3 linked regions of the Homo sapiens genome follow. The protein of the gene in region 1 interacts with the protein of each later gene in a pairwise test. Each region holds a gene or a part of one and is shown on either strand. Other genes may lie near its edges. The genes, in order: CYCS, CROT and LRRC56.

Evidence for each region.
Region 2: the proteins of CYCS (region 1) and CROT interact in binary tests that used the Homo sapiens proteins (3 or more experiments, as listed by UniProt).
Region 3: the proteins of CYCS (region 1) and LRRC56 interact in binary tests that used the Homo sapiens proteins (3 or more experiments, as listed by UniProt).

What each region holds. Positions count from the first base shown.
Region 1 is NC_000007.14:25,123,227-25,126,977, forward strand, and holds the start of CYCS (cytochrome c), read right to left. Parts: upstream 2,035-3,751; 5' UTR 1,974-2,034; intron 902-1,973; 5' UTR 894-901; coding exon 725-893; intron 624-724; coding exon 475-623; 3' UTR 1-474. UniProt on the Homo sapiens protein: Electron carrier protein. The oxidized form of the cytochrome c heme group can accept an electron from the heme group of the cytochrome c1 subunit of cytochrome reductase.
Region 2 is NC_000007.14:87,355,637-87,359,387, reverse strand, and holds part of CROT (peroxisomal carnitine O-octanoyltransferase), read right to left. Parts: intron 1,882-3,751; coding exon of another isoform or gene 1,798-1,881; intron 183-1,797; coding exon 58-182; coding exon of another isoform or gene 34-57; exon of another isoform or gene 1-33. UniProt on the Homo sapiens protein: Beta-oxidation of fatty acids. The highest activity concerns the C6 to C10 chain length substrate. Converts the end product of pristanic acid beta oxidation, 4,8-dimethylnonanoyl-CoA, to its corresponding carnitine ester.
Region 3 is NC_000011.10:540,515-544,265, reverse strand, and holds part of LRRC56 (leucine-rich repeat-containing protein 56), read right to left. Parts: intron 3,596-3,751; exon of another isoform or gene 3,593-3,595; 5' UTR 3,582-3,592; coding exon 3,405-3,581; intron 2,730-3,404; coding exon 2,642-2,729; intron 1-2,641. UniProt on the Homo sapiens protein: Required for the assembly of dynein arms.

The sequences.
Region 1 (3,751 bases):
ATTGCTACCTTATTTATCTTCAACCCTTGCCTTTAAGAGGCAAATGAACATGAACACAAAACACAGGTGAATCTTGCTTGGTTCTAAGACAGTGAAGCAATTTCCCCAGTATTTAAATATATTCACATAACCAGTTATATAAATCTAAATATAAAACCAATCTCCAGTAAGTTTTAAGATGGCACTCACCATCTTTGTGAAAAGTTGAACATTACTAACGAAGTCTAATCATATCTTTAAAAGGGGTAAACAGTGATACCATTTACTGAATTGGAGTTACTATTAAAATTCAAAAACTGAACATATTCATTTAACCACAAGCCAGTCTTAGTTTTAAATCAGGACTGCCCAACAAAATATTCTGTCAGTCATTCATGATCTGAATTCTGGTGTATGAGATCTATTAAAGGATGGTACACATAAAAAAGTCATGAGACATTTCTGTTTTGTAATAAATAAGGCAGTGGCCAATTATTACTCATTAGTAGCTTTTTTGAGATAAGCTATTAAGTCTGCCCTTTCTTCCTTCTTCTTAATGCCGACAAAGATCATTTTTGTTCCAGGGATGTACTTCTTGGGATTCTCCAAATACTCCATCAGTGTATCCTCTCCCCAGATGATGCCTAAACAAGAAAGAATGCATCGGTTATTTCACACTCCTGATAGTTTGCCACATGTTATATTCCTGCATTTTGTGTTGTTTTATTTAACAAGTGACTCTTACCTTTGTTCTTATTGGCGGCTGTGTAAGAGTATCCAGGGGCCTGACCTGTCTTCCGCCCAAAGAGACCATGGAGATTTGGCCCAGTCTTGTGCTTGCCTCCCTTTTCAACGGTGTGGCACTGGGAACACTTCATAATAAAAATCTTCTTGCCTTTCTCAACATCACCCATATTTAATTCTAAAAACGAAAGCTTCAACTTAGTAAATTTTTCCTCAGGTAACAAATACAGTGTAAATGAATGACCACTCTAGCCACTTAATTACCAATCCATTGCTAATTTATGTCATTAAATACCAGAATGAATCTTGTTTTGCTTTAATACTCTTTATACCAAATATTCTTTAATACCAAAAACATTTTTAGGAGTACCTCCTCAAAAACGTATTTTTGTGTGTATACGTGAAGGAACGTTAAAGCCCAAGCAAAGAGGGAACCTAATTCAAACTCCAGTTTCAGAAGAGACAATCATGGTCACGAAGTCACAGATCTGAAGCTCAAGGGCGAACACATTAAGCCAAAATCACCACAACCGCAACTTTTAAAAAGACCTAACCATTTAATCTTACTACAATGTAAAGCCACCTCTCCCTGAGGATAACGCAAAGCACACAAATGTTTAAAAAGCGGTCCTGGCTGTTTCTATCTGCCCAGGTCACAGGAGTAGCTTGACACTCGAACTTGTGAATGGGAGCTCAGGGGCAGGCTGCACGGTCCCCCGGGGACATCCCAACTCCCCTACCTGTGATCTCCTGGGGCGACCACGAGGTCACCCGTCCAGGTCGGTTTCAAGGTGATTGATGAAACTCCTTCTAGGATGTCAGAACGACTGACGGAAGAAACATGTGCCCACGAAAAGAACTGGCCCCTTATTAGAAGAGCAACAGCTTTTGCCCTCTGAAGAAGAACGTGAAGCTCTAAGCTTCGGCTTTCCAGGAGGGAAGTCTTGCCTATCATTTCCATAGCCCTTCAGCAACCACTACGGAAGAGGCCGCCTCCTCCTCGGATCTGTATCCAAGCCGCCTCCAGTCCCTGACCGAGACCATACCTGTCCCTAGTTAGGGCTCCGCCGCACCTCAAGCCGTTACTCGCCCAGCTCGGTCTGACCACAGTCCAGGGTCTTCACTCCCCGCCCTCCCACCCAGCGCGGGCTCCACTCGAATGCTCCCCGCTTGGGTTTCGGTCGCTCGCAAGTGCGCGCCTCCCACAGCTCTGCCTCTAACCAGGTGCGGCCTCCGCGACCCGCTCTCACCTCTTTTTAGTCGCTGGCACAACGAACACTCCCGCTCCGAAGCCGGACGTCCCCACTCTCTAAGTCCAAGGACACGCCGGTCCGCGCTTAAGTACCGGTGTAAGTGCAACCAAACTCGCTCCGCGCTCCCGCGCCCTGACGTGCGGCCGAGCTGGCGGCTACGCAGTAACGTCGCCGCACCTCATTGGCTCCAGTCCCAATGCCTGCGCCAAGGACCTGCGCGCGCATGCTGGCGAGCATGTTAGGGTGTACGGCGTGCGTGCCCTTCTTCTCGAGGCTTTTCCCGGCCGTTACGACAGGCCTTTGGTCGTACGACAACGAGGTGGTGTCGGGAGAGGTGACGTCACTCGCGGGCCTCTGTGCGCTTGCGTGTGCTGGAGGAGCGGGGAGGGTGGGGCGGAGTCGCTTGGTTGGTGCGTTGCCCTGCTAAAGTATCAGTTCTTGGGCGTGGTGATGTAATGAGCTTTGAGCAGGGCGTTTTGCCGGTCCAGGAAAAGACGCCCTAATTTTGGCGCACCTAGAGGTCTCCTAGCTACCATCTTGTCAGCAGGCGACCTTTACCCAGACTCTGTCCTACTACCACGGCTGGCGCCAACAGCATCCTAGAGGGACAGCCTGGAACCAGGAGTTACACGAGTTGGGCACCAGCTCGTGACCTTGTTCTAGTTCCACCTATACTCTGTTACTTTCAGTCACATTCCAGCTCTCCGCTTGATGGACGCCCCAAGACTGAGGAAGGTGCTGCATTTGCGGCAGAGACAGGATTATCCCTCTGGAACTGAAAAATAAAATTAAGAGGATGCAATGATAACATTTATGTACCTTTTAAAATTTTTATGAGTACGAAGTAGGTAAATATATATATATACTTAAGAGGTACATGAGATATTTTGATACAGGCATACAATGTATAATAATCACATCAGGGTAAACGGTCTATCCATCACCTCAAGCATTTATCCTTTTTTTCTGTTACAAGCAATCCAATTATACTTTTAGTTTGTTTAATGTACAATAAATTATTGTTGAGTGTAGTCACCCTGTTGTATTACTAGACCTTATTCATTCTTCTTCAGTGGCGCCATTTAATGTCTCAGCCCCCCAAGTAGCTGGGACTACGGGAGCAAACCACCACGCCCAGCTAATTTTTGTATTTTTAGTAGAGATGGGGTTTCACTATTTGGTCAGGCTGGTCTCGAACTCCTGACCTCAGGTGATTCACCCGCATCGGCCTCCCAAAGTGCTGGGATTACAGGTGTGAGCCACCACGCCCAGGGCAAATAATATTTTATAACCCATTGTTTTAAACTGATGACAACATAACATTGATTGCATAAACAAAAATCAAAGAGAAAACTAAGAAAAACTCTGCACTTTAACTTCACTCTCCCCACTTTTAAAACTTTTTCTTGTTTCTATTTATATATTATTATACTATGTCTTGAAAAGTTGTTATAGCTATTATTTTTGATAAGTTAGGTTAATCTCTAAGTCTTTCTACTCAAGATATGAACAGTTTACACACAATTACAGTATTATAATATTGTGTGTTTTTCTGTGTACTTACTATTAGTAGTGAGTTTTGTACCTTCAGGTGGTTTCTTATTGCTTACGAATGTCCTTTTCTTTCAGACTGAGGAACTCCCTTTAGCATTTCTTGTAGGACAGGTCTGGTGTTGATGAAATCCCTCAGCTTCTGTTTGCCTGGGAAAGTCTTTATTTCTCCCTCACATCTGAAGGATATTTTCACTGGATGTACTATTCTAGGATAAAAGTTT
Region 2 (3,751 bases), about 62 Mb from region 1:
CACTTTTTATTTATCATTCTTTAAACATCATCATTATTCAATTATAACAACAAATACCCAATTTCTTTTTCCTTTTGCTCTTTCAAGCAATTTCTGGTGCAATTTTTCTCCAATCCCACTTTGAAATTTTTGAACTATTTCTTCAGTTTTCTTATATTCTTCTTGATTTGCAAATGGTTTCACTAGAAAGGAAAAATACGTATTAAGGTATTTAGACCAAGTACCACCAACTCACCTCTATTATTACTAACTTATGCAAATCTTAAGACTCAGATATGTAAAACACAGTACTGTATTAAATAGCAGAGCAGAACAATAAAATTAAGAGTTGACAACATGAAAGTGGCGGAAAAGAAACAAAAGATTTGGAAATCCTTGCTTGAGAGAATGGGATTAGCAAGTCGGGAGGGAGCCAGGGAGATGGGCAAAGGACTGCATTTTTCATCACAAGCCTATTTACACTATCTGGCTTTTCAAACTCTGGAAAAATTAACATAAAGAGAGAAAAAAAGTTGGATATTTTAAGGACATGGTTGACTCGAACAACACGAGTTTGAACTGCACAGGTCCATTTATACCTAATAAAAGTTGATAATGAGTGTGCTTGCCTCTCCTGTCCCTACTTCCACCTCCTCTACCACCTCTGAGACAGCAAGACCAGTCCCTCCTCTTCCTCCACCTACTCAACATGAAAACCATCAGGATGAAGATTTTTATGATGATCTACTTCCACTTAATGGATAATAAATATATTTTTCTCTTCCTTATCATTTTTTAATAACATTTGCTTTACTCTAACTTAAATAATTCAGAAAATAATACATATAACATAAAATTATCTGTTAATCAACTGTTTACGTTATAAAGTTGTACTTGAATTTCTTTTCTTTTTTTTTTTTTTTTTTTGAGATGGAGTCTCGCTCTGTCGCCCAGGCTGGAGTGCAGTGGCGTAATCTCAGCTCACTGCAAGCTCCGCCTCCTGGGTTCACACCATTCTCCTGCCTCAGCCTCCCGAGTAGCTGGGAATACAGGCGCCCGCCACCACTCCTGGCTCTTTTTTTTTTTTGTATTTTTAGTAGAGACGGGGTTTCACTGTGTTAGCCAGGATGGTCTCGATCTCCTGACCTCGTGATCTACCTGCCTCCGCCTCCCAAAGTGCTAGGATTACAGGCGTGAGGCACTGCGCACGGCCTGTACTTGGATTTTCTAATACACATGGGTCAGCACCACCAGCCCTGCATTGTTCAAGAGTCACCTATACTTTATTACAAGTCTAGATAAAGAAGCAATTAAACCTTCAACTTCTAACAGTGTTGTTAAGGAAGCAGGAGCTTAGGAGAGCCAGAGTAATGCCGTTTTAATTTCAGCTCCATCTGGAGACTAACAAGGCACAATTCCTTGCTGGTCATGACCCACATTAAGAAGATATTTACAGTTGAGTGAACAGCCTACAGATACCTACAAGGACACACTCCTAAACAGCAGAAAGTCCAGGTATCCCAATACCCATAACAATATATGTTTTCAAGATAATTACAGTTATGTTTGGATGTATTTACACACTAAAATGTCAAGGATAGTTTTATTTAAATCAATAGAATAATAAATTGTGTCATGTTGTCTGCTCACCCACATGTAGACGTAGCTTAGTTTAGTCTTTACATAGATAAAGGCTCTATATAAGAAAAACTTAAAATAAGGATGGTGCCTTCCTTTGCTTGCCCTCTGAGGACGCTCTACTCCGCAATGGAGTAGCTTTCAATAAGCTGTCTCTTCTCACTGCACTCTGCAACTCACCTTGAATTCCTTCCCGCGTGAGATCCAAGAACCCTCTCTTAGCATCTGGATCAAGACCCCTTATCTGGTAGCATGTTCTGGTGACTACAAAGGGACATTAGGATGAGATCCCATGCTGAGGAGATTCAGCCTGCACAGCACTAATTGGCCACCTCTGATAAATGGGGTCTGTCTTGGCATCCTATCAAGGATAATATTTCTAGCCCAATGGGGTTAGAGTCTCTAGGGTATAATATTTGGGTTAGAGTCCCAGCCCAATGGGGTGAGAGTCCCTGGGGTATAATAAAAATTAAAGTAGCCTTGCAAGATGTACGCCAGTATATGCTTTGGACTAATCCACTTTGTCCCCTTTGCCAGATATGGGAAAGCTATACTTCTCATCACTTCCCAACTTGTTGCCTTTGCTTTACTGCAGCTTTACAGTGGCCCCTATGGCCAGCCCAGAGGTTTACTGCATTCACTTTCCACACTTGCCTTCTGACTGTCACCTTTTCGTTTGCTTTGTCATGTCTCAGGATAGCATGGGGAACCTGAGGACTTACAAGATTTGTTCTTGATATATATATTTTGAGACAGAGTCTCGCTCTATCACCCAGGCTGGAGTGCAATGGTGCAATCTTGGCTCACAGCAACCTCCGCCTCCCAGGTTCAGGCGATTCTCCTGCCTCAGCCTCCCAAGTAGCTAGAATTACAGGTGCCCACCACCACGCCCAGCTAATTTTTGTATTTTTAGTAGAGACAAGGTTTCACCATCTTGGCCAAGCTGGTCTTGAATCCTGACCTCAGGTGATCTGCCCACTTTGGCCTCCCAAAGTACTGGGATTACAGACGTGAGCCACTGTGCCCAGCCTGTTCTTGCTATATCTTAAACATTGCAGGACTCAGATGCTTTTACACCCCATGTTAAAACAGGCAGCAATCTTTATCTGCTTGCCCCCTGTGGAAACCTGGAGTCTCATTCTCTTATCTGAAGCTTCAGCCTGTTATCATTCTGGTGGTTACTTTTGCCCTGCAACTATGAAATTAAACAGAGTCTTCTAAAGCTCTCTATTTTTCTCTTCTTTTCTGCCTGATTTGAATCTGTTATTATTAGTCTACTAGTATTGAAATAAAACTTGATGTTTAGGTTACTTAGAGATTTTGTTTTTCTTGTACAGTTCAACCAGAACTGTAAAAGAAATGTACATGTTAGAAACTCATTTGAAACTGAAAAACAAAATGTGAAAAGGCAAAACAAACAAACAAAAACAAAAATAAAAAACCCTCAAACTTTCATGAAGACTACTTTACCCAAAATTTTGGTCTATGGCTTTCCTGGCATGACTCACTGGATATCTGAGTCATTTCCAATTAAGAAATGTTTATAATATGGGAAACATGTTTCTAAAATGTTGGCAGCCTGGGCAACATGGTGAAACCCCATCTCTACAAAAGATACAAAAATTAGCAGGGCATGGTGGCACCTGCCTGCAGTCTCAGCTACTCAGGAGGCTGAGGTTGGAGGATCACCTGAGCTGGGGAGGTCAAGGCTGCAGTGACCTGTGACTACACCACTGCACTCCAGCCTGGGTAACAGTGAGATCTCATCTCAGAAAAATAAAATAAAATAAAATTGTGGAATGATTTTATCTATAAAATGCTAACATCTGACAAATAGTTCTAGGTTTCTTGCTTCCTAAGTTTTTGGATTCATGTATAGGTGAGTGCTCTTTGTTGTCTCTTCCATTCCCTTTGTTGTCCCTTTTCCTTTCTGCAATATACTTTGCAATATACTCAGCCTTCTAGGCCCCAGGAGACACAGGAATACTCATATTCCCCAGGTTGAGGTTAGAGGCCCCACCCAGAGTTGGATAACCTATTTGAGTCTCAGAGTTGTATTTGTCAGTACCTACTGTTTCTTAATCGGCTGTTATTTGCTGTCTGTGTCTCGCTAGTGACACATGTCGCCCTGTGC
Region 3 (3,751 bases), on another chromosome or scaffold:
CACCCCCAAGCTGCCTCCACACCCCTCCCCTGGCATCTCAGACCGTCATGCACAGTCCCACACACAACACAGGACCAGATCACTGCACGCCCCAGCCTGTGTTTCTGCACAGCCCAAGGCCCCAGGAAAAGGCTCTGCGTTCGGAGTCTTTTGTAGGATGGGGCATATGCCCCTGTGAGGCAGACAGAATCCCTGCATTGTGAGAAGGGTTGCAGAGTGGCTGGGTGCGGTGGCTCACGCCTGTAATCCCAGCACTTTGGGAGGCTGAGGTGGGTGGATCACTAGGTCAGTAGATCGAGACCATCCTGGTTAACACGGTGAAACCCCGTCTCTACTAAAAATACAAAAAATTAGCCGGGTATGGTGGCGGGCGCCTGTAGTCCCAGCTACACGGGAGGCTGAGGCAGGAGAATGGCGTGAACCCGGGAGGTGGAGCTTGCAGTGAGCCGAGATTGCGCCACTGCACTCCAGCCTGGGTGACAGAGCGAGACTCCGTCTCAAAAAAAAAATAAAAGAAGGGGCGCAGAGTGTGTGGGTACAGGCGCTCCAAGACCATGCCTGTGGGAAGGGCTCGAGTGAGTGCAGATGGCTGCGGGTTAGCCACACACAATGGTCAGGGACTTCACAGGCCATTGCAAAACAATACAAGACCAATCAAGATGGGCCTGGTTCACCTCAGTCAGTTGGAGAAATGCAGACAGCCAGTGATCCTGGGTGGGAAGACGCTTCCCTGCTCTAAAGGTCACTGTGGGGCCTGGCGTGGTGGCTCACACCTATAATCTCAGCACTTTGGGAGGCCGAGGCGGGTGGATCACCTGAGGTCAGGAGTTCAAGACCAGCCTGGCCAACATGGTGACACCCCATCTGTACTAAAAATACAAAAATTACTCGGGCGTGGTGGCACACACCTGTAATCCCAGCTACTCAGGAGGCTGAGGCAGGAGAATTGCTTGAATTCAAGAGGCTGAGGTTGCAGTGAGCCAAGATTGCACCACTGCACTCCAGCCTGGGCAACAAGAGAGAGACTCTGTCTTAAAAAAAACAACAATGAAAAAAACAAAAAACAGGCCAGGCGCGGTGGCTCATCCCTGTAATCCTGTAATCCCAGCACTTTGGGAGGCTGAGGTGGGTGGATCACTTGAGGTCAGGAGTTCAAGACCAGCCTGGCCAACATGGTGAAACCCCGTCTCTACTAAAAATACAGAAATCAGCTGGGCGTGGTGGTGAGTGCCTGTAATCTCAGCTACTCGGGAGGCTGAGGTAGGAAAATTCAACCTGGGAGGCAGAGGTTGCAGTGAGCTGAGATTGCGCCACTGCACTCCAGCCTGGGCGACAGAATGAGACTCCATCTCAAAAAAAAAAAAGTCACTGTTGGGACAGCTGGTGACATTTGAATATGGTCTTCAGCATGGCTAAGAGTCATGTACAGGTGTAATTCCTGACTTTGGCCATCGCACTGCATTTAAGGGAATGTCCTCCCTCTCAGGAAATACACACTGAAGTGTCAGTAGATAAAGGGGTGTTGCATGTCCAACTCTCAACTAGTTCAGGAAAAAGAACAGTGGCCTGACGCGCTGTGCACGCACGGGAGGGAGCAGGGGCCAGCACCACCGTGAACACGGCGAAAGAGAAGGAACCTGGCGGAGGGCGGGGAGGGAGTGTTTTTTTTTTTTTTTTTTTTTTTTGCGACAGGGTTTTGCTCTGTCGCCCAGTCTGGAGTGCAGCGGTGCAATCTCAGCTCACTGCAGCTTGACCTCCCCACCTCCTATGAGTAGCTGTGACTACAGGTGCCATCATGCCTGTCTAATTTTTTATTTTTAGACACAGGGGTCTTGCTATGTTGCCCAAGCTGATCTCAAACTCCTGGGCTCAAGTGATCCATCCACCTTGGACTCCCACGGTGCTGGGATTACAGGCGTGGCCCCTGTGCCTGGCTGAGATTATTTCAAGATGAGTTTCAGGAGACACCAAGTGGCACTCAGCACCATTTTGGCCTTTGTTCCTCTGTGATGCTGGCGTGGGTGTGTGGGGCACTGAGCGTGCCGGGGGTACTGGCGTGGGTGTGTGGGGCACTGAGCGTGCCGGGGGTACTGGCGTGGGTGTGTGGGGCACTGAGCGTGCCGGGGGTACTGGCGTGGGTGTGTGGGGTACTGAGCGTGCCGGGGGTACTGGCGTGGGTGTGTGGGGTACTGAGCGTGCCGGGGGTACTGGCGTGGGTGTGTGGGGTACTGAGCGTGCCGGGGGTACTGGCGTGGGTGTGTGGGGTACTGAGCGTGCCGGGGGTACTGGCGTGGGTGTGTGGGGTACTGAGCGTGCCGGGGGTACTGGCGTGGGTGTGTGGGGTACTGAGCGTGCCGGGGGTACTGGCGTGGGTGTGTGGGGTACTGAGCGTGCTGGGGGTACTGGTGTGGGTGTGTGGGGTACTGAGCGTGCTGGGGGTACTGGTGTGGTGTGCGGGGTGCTGAGTGCATTGCCCTCTGCCTGTACCTGACACAGACCTCAGGTCAGAGGCCAACCCTAAGGAAGCCGATACGCGGCCCGAGAGGTGAGGACAGCTTTGTCGTCATAACCAGGAAACGTGTGTTGTTTACAGGGAGGCGTGGCCGTGGCCGTGGCCATGGCGGGGTGGGAAGAGGCTCACCAAAGTTCCCCAGGCTGCCCTCACGAGTGTCCACACACATCTCCAGCGTCCTCACCAGCCGAAGGTCATCCACCCGGGCCAGGGCCTGCTGTAGAAACCAACCGGGGGTCAGCGCTGGTCCTGGCTCTCCCCACTTTAGTTCCATCCTTGCTTCTGGCTACAGGACTCTGGGGCTCCCGCTGGAGCAGGCACCGACGTTTCCCTGCCTGGGCCATGTTGGCCCTGGCCTGGGTGGTGGGATGGGAGTGGATGTGACAGGAGCAGAGCTTGTGCTGCACTTGGCTGGGGGGTCATTGCGGGAGAAGGACCTGCCCTGGGGGCTGCCCGTCTCCAGAGAGACTCCCAGGGCAGACACACCACACCCGGCACCCAGAGCCCGGACCGCGCCGGGCCCTGCCCTGAGCTTTGAGCCATCTGGTCTCCCGCTTGAGTGAAGGACCCCCCTCTTTGGTTGGAGGATAATGGATGCTCAGCCCCTACTTGTGGGTTCTGGCCTGGCTCAGTCCTGTCTGTGACCCAAATGCCTGGGGACGTCTGTGTCACTGAGCACCTGGTGTTGCTGGTGTTTTGGGGCCTGGTAGGGGTCCCAAGGGCAGAGTGGGTGGAGCAGACCCAGCTGCAGGGGCTGGGCTGAGGCCAACCATCAGCAGGCAAGACCAGCAGGAGGGGGACAGAGGGCAGGCTGGACCATCAGCAGGAAGGAGCCCTGGGATGTCACCCCACGGAGGCCTCTGTGGCCACAGCCCCCAGCGCCCACACTCACCAGCCGGGCAGGGGACAGGTACTCTTCCACCAGCTGCTCTCCAAGTCTGTCCCTCTGACTGCCAGGGCCCTTGCTCTGTGGGCAGGGGTTGTGCAGGCCTTGCCAGCTCAGCTCCCGCACCCGGACGCTGGAGGTGCTCCGCCGAGGCCCACGGGATCTGTCCCAGCCCAGATCCATTCACATGTCACCTGCTGACAGAGGCACAGTGCAAAGCTCCACGCTGTTGCTCCTCCTCCTCTGCAGCCCGGCTGAGACCCTGGCCCAGCCCTCAACCCCCCGCCCCCGTCACAGCAAGCCCTTGGCACCCACCCCCACCCCGAGCCTAGAGAAGGCTCCTAGCTTGGCTG